Homo sapiens: one gene and its partner. The protein of the gene in region 2 interacts with the protein of the main gene of each other region in a pairwise test. Each region holds a gene or a part of one and is shown on either strand. Other genes may lie near its edges. The genes, in order: CDR2 and MICALL2.

Evidence for each region.
Region 1: the proteins of MICALL2 (region 2) and CDR2 interact in binary tests that used the Homo sapiens proteins (3 or more experiments, as listed by UniProt).

Annotation. Positions count from the first base shown.
Region 1 is NC_000016.10:22,364,416-22,368,231, forward strand, and holds part of CDR2 (cerebellar degeneration-related protein 2), read right to left. Parts: intron 600-3,816; coding exon 487-599; intron 1-486.
Region 2 is NC_000007.14:1,438,779-1,442,594, forward strand, and holds part of MICALL2 (MICAL-like protein 2), read right to left. Parts: intron 3,707-3,816; coding exon 3,414-3,706; exon of another isoform or gene 2,385-3,413; coding exon of another isoform or gene 1,907-2,384; coding exon 1,813-1,906; intron 1,308-1,812; coding exon 1,147-1,307; intron 218-1,146; coding exon 62-217; exon of another isoform or gene 1-61. UniProt on the Homo sapiens protein: Effector of small Rab GTPases which is involved in junctional complexes assembly through the regulation of cell adhesion molecules transport to the plasma membrane and actin cytoskeleton reorganization.

The DNA of each region.
Region 1 (3,816 bases), on a different chromosome or scaffold from region 2:
TAGGTGGGAGGGATATGTCACCAAGGAGGAGGTATAAGTTCCCTCTCCGGTGGGAAGTTCAAGAGTGTGGGCAGTCTTCTTTTTTAAGCTAGGTGGTGGATATATGGGTATTCACTGTATTGTTCTCTTACCCCATTCTGTATATCTTAAATATTGCATGTTTTAGGCCGGGTGTGGTGGCCCATGCCTGTAATCCCAGCACTTTGGGAGGCCAAGGCAGGTGGATCATCTGAGGACAGGAGTTCGAGACCAGCCTGGCTAACACAGTGAAACCCCATCTCTACCAAAAATACAAAAATTAGCCAGGCGTGGTGGCAGGCGCCTGTAATCCCAGCTACTCGGGAGGCGGTTCTCATTCTCAAAAAAGTTTGTGTTAAAAAATAAAATGCTGCATCTAATTGCAAGTGCTTTTTTACCAGTATGTGATTGGCATAACAGCAACACATCGAAGTGTCAAAAGTGTAACTCTCCTGCCAAGTGAATTACCTCAATTTCCTGTAACTGCTCCTGATTGGTTGTATACATCTGCTGAACAGAGTCCTCCAACTCTGTGTTCCGATCCAGTAATGTCTTCCCAAGCTCAGCAGCAAGTTGAAGATCTAGCACAACAAATGAATCTTAGAATAATACAAATGATCTCACATCAACAATTTATATAACCCAGTCCTTCAAAAAAGAACATGTAGTTTAAGTCACATCCCAATGGAAGGTGGAGTGGCACAGAAGGAAACCCGAGTTCTACTTAAAATTCAGTTAAACTGACGCCTCCAGCAGGTAATGTATTCTCTTATGTACCCATACTTGTAAGAAGTGAAAAATGGTCATCTACTTTATGGAGATGCAGTTATTTGTTCAGGAATGATCATTCCGCAGTGTTACTTCTAAAATCCTATTTGCTAGTACAATGAATGTATTCATATCCTGACAGTCTACTTTTTTGAATGGACCCTTGAGCCAAGGTATAGGTGGAGCTTTCAAAAATCTTTAAAGTTCCCATGAATTTGCCTGCTGTGAATACAACTGTTAAAGTTTATTGTCATATATCCTGGACTCCTAAGGGGACTAAAATTTATTAAGTCAAGAAAAGGAAAAATACATCAGCATTAAGAACACTGCCCCAGGTCACTCTACTTCTCTTCGTGTCCTTCTGTAAGATGAGCAACTAGAAAAGCAAAACAGAAATGTGGTTTTTGAGGTAATTACATGTCAGTAGCTCATACTTCCATTTAGCACAGAACCATATTTTATTTTAAACCTCATTTTTCAACTCTCTCTATTCTTAGGTATAATGCCCATAAAACAGGATTTGTTTATATTATACTCAACTCCCAGAAATGAAAATTTAGTTAACAATATAAGAAAGGACACTAGTTGTAACATACGTCATTGAAATACTTCTTTGCATAGTAAATCTTATGGAGCAGTCCTTTGATACAGTGGGAAATGCACTGCACTCTGGGCAGGTAAGTCTCAGGCCCAGTTCTATCATTTACCAGAACACTTTCAATATGGTGACTTTAAGGCCCCTATAGTTAGTATTCTTGTTTAGAGAGATGACTGTCTTATCAATATAAGATTGTGAAAATCAAATGAAATAATACATAAAGGAGTACTTTACAAACTAAGTTGCAATACGCACGCAAAGTACTATTAATAGTCATTGATTCACAAATGAATGTTTTTGTTGCCAGGCACTATGCTAAGCATTAGCTATAGAACAGTGAATAAAATGAAGTCCTGCTTTGCTGACATTCCCAGATTAGTGGAGGAAGCCAGACAAATGAGTAACTAAACTCACATACTGTGATAAACAGTATTCATGCATGCATGCATATACTCAATAATATCAGACACTATTCTAGGCACTGGGATGGTGCCCAGGAGCCATAAGGAACTCACATTAAAAAAATATCCCTGCCCTCATGGAGCTTATATTCTACTGGGAGAAACAGCACAATAAAACTTGATAGCGATAAATGCTAAAGAGAAAAAAATAAAGCAAGGAAGAAGTACAGGAGGAGTGTGGATGTGGGAGGCTGAAATTTAAGAACATGTGACCAGGGCCACATTAGAATCAATGTGTGAAGGAACAGAATAAGTGACCCATGTGTATCCATCAGGGAAACAGCACTCCAGGCAGAGGCAAGGCAAGTGCAAAGCACCTGGGAGGAAGCATGACTGAGTCATTAAGGAGGCTGAGGAGGGTGGAGCAGAATGTATTGGGCAGGGAGGGGAGGGGGAAGACTCAAATCAGAGGGGCTCCAAGATGGCCAGTTTGCGGAGGGCCTAACTAAAGAGGTCAAGAGTTTGGCCTTTACTCCAAATGAAGGAATCCAATGGAGGTTTAACAGGATCACTCCGGCTGCTGTTATACAGGGTGAATGGGACAAAGGTGGGAGCAGAGTGACAGAAAGATACTGCAATCGTCTGGGTGAGAGATGATGGTGGCTTGGACCAGGGTGGCAGAGATGAAGATGGGAGAGGAGGGGCAGAATTCTGACATGTTTTGAAAGTAAAGCTAAAGGATTTGTTGACCAATTCAATATAAAGTCTAAAAGATAAAGCGGGGGAGAAAAACCTGGATTTGGTGATAATGAACAAAGGGCTTTCTTTTTCTGTCTCTTTATTAGGCACGGTCTCGCTCTGTTGCCATGCTGGAGTGCAGTGGTGCACTCATGGCTGACTGTAGCCTTGGATTCCTGGGCTCAAGTGATCTTCCTGCCTCAGCCTGCCAAACAGCTGGGACTACAGGCATGCACTACCAAACCCAGCTTACTTACTTACTGATTTATTGTAGAGACAGGGTCTTACAATGCTGCCCAGGATGATCTCAAACTTCTGGCCTCAACACATCCTCCCACATCAGCCTCCCAAAATGTTGGGATTACAGGCATGAGCCACTGTGCCCAGCCTAGGGCCCAATTTAGAAAGGGAGGTCATAAGGAAGGTCTGACAAGACCTTTTAGCTGAAGCTTGAAGGATGAAGAACTTGCCATGAATTTGGCATATTCTACAACCTGACAAGCAGCCAGTATGATAGAAGCATGAGGGATCAGATCATATAGGATTTTATAGCCCATGGTAGGTAAAGTTTAAATTTTATTCTAGGTATGATGGAAAGTAGCCTCAGTTATTGTCATAAAAGTATTATGAAAAAAATTTATCATAAAAACAAGGAAACTCACTACATAATGATTTTTAAACTTAATTTTTAGAGGTTGACAAATAAGGCTTAATGGCTATCCACCACTACTCATAGTAAAACTTAGCATTGAGTAAATGGTAACAACAGCATTAGTTGTTGTAATGTCCACTCAAGTGCATAATTAGTATTCTACTTGGTTAGTTTTCACTCTGGAAAAAGCAGCAAAACCTACCACACCCAACTCCAGATCATTTAAAAACATTTTACACCCATTTAAAATAAAACAGTATACTGTTGGTAGATAGGTGCTAAAATACATTCTCTTGTGATTTCAAAACTAACAATGTCTATTAGTCATTACATTCATTAAGACTTTAGAGGCCAGGTGCAGTGGGTCATGCCTATAATCCCAGCATTTTGGGAGGGTGAACCAGATGGACTGCTTGAGCTCAGAAGTTCGAGACCAGCCAGGGCAACATGGTGAAATTACATCTCTACCAAAAATACAGTGAGGCCCTGTCTCAAAAATAAAAAAATAAAAAATAAAGACTTCCATTAAATCTATGAAATAACTTGTATTTACAAAACACAGAACTTTTACAAATAGCTCAAAGCATTTAAGAGACATTAGTCTTTTTCTTGTCATTATTTATTTATTTTTTTTGAGATGG
Region 2 (3,816 bases):
TCCTCAGAGGAAGGCTCCCTTCACGTACACCCCAAACAGCAGCGGTGTCTCTGGGGCTGACCTGGTTTGCCCTGAAGGTGAGGTTTCTTCTCCTCCTCCTTCCAGCTCTGCACTCGGGCTTCCTGGCCAGGGGGCTCCGGCCGAAGCCAGTTGTCACAAACGTCGAGGCTGGCAGGGACGGCCAGTCTCCTGCGGCGGGGTGGGGAGGGGGACCTGGCTGCCCCCAGGTGGGGAGACAGAGCCACGCTTCAGAGCAGGGCCACTGGGAGCCTGGGGTCTGTCCCAGCACAGCCAACAGCTCGCTGGGTAGCCCGGCCATCCCCATGCCCTGGGCCTCCCGACTGGCACAGGGTTGGCATCACAAGCCCTACACCCACGTCCTGCCCAACCTGGCCATGTCTCCCCAGGGGGCTAACCCACGGGGCTGCTGGCTGCTCAAGGTCACACAGGAAGTGGCACGAGAGCTGGATATGGATCCAGGGCAGCTATGAGTGCTAGGAATACACACAGAGATGTGTGTGCACACACACGCATCACACACGAACACGGGTGCACACGTGGACACACATGCATCACATTCATGAAACAGATCCACACATGGGTACATGCACCACATACATGAACACGGTTGCACACACATGCATCACACAGATGTACACATGGACACACATGCATCGCACATGAACACAGATGTACACATGGACACATGCATCACGTGTGGGCACACATGCATCACATACACGAACACAGACACATGGACACGCATCACACATGTACACATGCATCACACGCATGAACACTGATGTACACATGAATACACATGCATCACACATCACATACATGAACAGACACATGGACATGCATCACGTGCACATGCATCACACACATGAACACAGATGTACACATGCGCACACATGCATCACGCATGGATACAGGCATCACATACATGAACACATGCACACATGCATCACACACATGCACACATGTACACACAAGCCTGCCCAGGACTACCAGCTTCTCTGGCTGACCGGAGCGCCTCTCCGCACACCCCAGGAGGTGGCACTACAGGTCCAGTCCCGGGGCCCCCACCCAAGGGGGAGGGCCAGCTAGGCAACCCGGGGGCCCCTGGGTCCCGTCCAGGAGTACCTGGGAGGCTGGGTCCTGGGCTGGCTGGGCGTGGGGTCCTGTCAGGCCTCACGGGGGTCAGGGTGATGTGGACACTCCCAGCAAAGCTGCCTGAGACCTTCCTGGGGGCCTCCCCCGCCCTCGGCTCTGCCAGGGCCCGTGGTTCCTTGGGCTTCAGAGTCCTGGGCAGAAGGCATGAGGTCGGAACCCGAACCACCAGCCCCAGGGCCTGGCCCACCTGGAGGGGCTCCCAGGCCATATGCAGACCAGCCGGAGGGAGCAGGTGGCCTTCTGAGCAAATGCCACCTCCCAGCCCACTGACTACACCTGCTGGGACCCTCCTGCAAACACACGTGTCCATCGCTACCTGCCGTGGTGCGAAGCAGATTCCAGGCGTGAGCTCCGGGCCCCACGGGACCCACACATGGGGAGACTCCACCCCAGCTGCAGGCATGGTGCGTGAACCCACACGGGTGCTGCCATGCCCAGGTGAGACACGCAACGCTGCCCCCAAACCAGGGACAGCGGCCCCCATGTCCCTCAGGCAGGGGTGACCTGGCCTCTGCTACTCACAGGGAGGTGCGTCTATCCCTGGATAGGCGTGTCAATCGGTCGATTACATACTCACTGCATTTATTAAGCACCTATGGTGTACCAGGCCCTGGGCCAGCCCCACCCATCCCTAACCTCTCAGCTGGGCTTCTCCTGTCCACGGGCTTCAGATTCGCTCTCCATCCTGCCGGCCCGTCCTCCTGGCCTTCCTGGAGGCTGGTGCTCATGTCTGGGTGGGAGGCAAGGGGTCTGGGTGTGAGGAAGGAGTGCTGGGAATGGGGTGTCTGCAAGGGTGGCTGTGCCTCCCCCTGCCATCTTCCCATAGCCACTCCACCCTCAGACACCCCCACAGCCAGCCGGCCGGGGGGCATCAGGAGCACCGGGCAGGGAGTCAGGGGAGGGGCTCCCAGCTGGCTCTCCTGTGCTGTGTGTCCCTGGGGGAAGCTCTCCCTGCCTCTGGGCCTCAACTTCCCCTTCTGCCGAATGGGTGGGGACGTGGCAGGGTGAGCCCCGTGGACCCTGATCCTCTGTCCACCTGTGCAAGGGGAACACCTGAGCCACGGCTGCCCGTCTGCAGGCTTTCTTGGCTCCTGGGTCCTGCAGGATCCAGCGCGTGGCTTTAACAATGAGAACTCAGCCAAAGAGAAGGATCTGGAAAAACCCTTTGCAGCCCAGCTTGTTCCCTGAGCCCAGCTCGATAAAGCCATGGGAACCTCTAGCTTTTTTCTACACACACCCAGGTGGCAGGGACAGCCAGTTTCCTGCAGTGGGGCGAGGCGGGGGGACTCGGCTGCCCCCAGGTTGGGAGACAGAGCCGTGCATCAAAGCAGGGCCGCCAGGAGCCTGGGGTCTGTCCTGGCACAGCTGACAGCTCACTGCGTAGCCTGGCCATCCCAGTGCCCTGGGCCTCCCAGCTGGCACAGGGTTGGCCTCACAAGCCCTAAGCCCACGTCCTGCCCAGCCTGGCCATGATCACCCAGGGGGCTAACCCCTGGTGGGTGACAGCCAGTTGCCTAGAAGAAAGCTCGCTCCCTGTTCCCGAAAACACGTGAGGCCATAAAACAGGACTGTGTGGTCCAGGGAGCCCCCAGGAAGAGCTCCCAGCCTAGGAGGCACCAGAGCCCTCAGGTCATAGGGCATCGTCACCAGACCACCACCGGGGGGGACGGAGCACAGGGCGCTCTCACCTGGACACCACCAGGGGGACAGGGCATACTGGGACACCAGCGGAGGGGACGGGGCATAGGGCACCGTCACCGGGACACCACAGGGGGGACGGGGCATAGGGCACCATCTCCGGTATGTGGTGACACAGGGTGCCACAGCAACAGCGCGACGTTGTCAAAGCGACAGGCAGGAAGCGCAAAACACCACGGGAGAACAGGAGGCCCCACAGACCACGGCCAAGCCAGGCCACTGCTAGCCACAGGATGTAACTGCCAGACCGAGCTGAGCGGGACGCTGCAGGGCTGGGCTGCAGGCACCTGCAGGACGTGCGGATGGGGTGGGCTGGGTGCCGGCAAACAGCATAGCCCTGAGGACATTTGCAGCCACCACACAGAGAGCGCACCAGGACCCCAGGAGGCTGCGAGCAGGTGTCACGGAGGACAGAGATGAGACGGAGAGGAAGGCGGGCGGGGCTGATGATGAAACCGCACACACTGCAGAGTGCGGCCAGGGGAGAGTCCCAGAGCTGCGGGCCCCCGGGGCCTCCTGCCTCCCAGCCCCTTACTCACCCTGCGTTAAGGTGGTGCTTTTACCCTTTGCCATCGGGGCCTCTGGCTTCGGCCTGGAGCCAGCACCCACCCTGCCGACCCCTGAGGATTCCGCCAAGTTCCTCCTGCCTGCCGGGGGCAACGCGGATGCCTGAGAGGTACTGCTCGTGCTCAGCGGGGCTGGCGGTTCCATCCTCGAAGGGAGGCCAAGCACCCGGGGAGACGAGGACTGTAACGGCTTGGCTAAGGGACTTGCTTGTGGTGCTTCAGTTTTGGGCTGAGAACTGGGAACAGCGGCAGTGGCTGGGGAGGGCCTATAAGTAAAAGCGCAGGCATCAGGCACAGCTGGATCCAGGCGCCCTCCCACCATCACCCGAGGCCGCCCCTCTGCCTCCCTGCAGCTCACTCCCAATGCCCAGCCTCC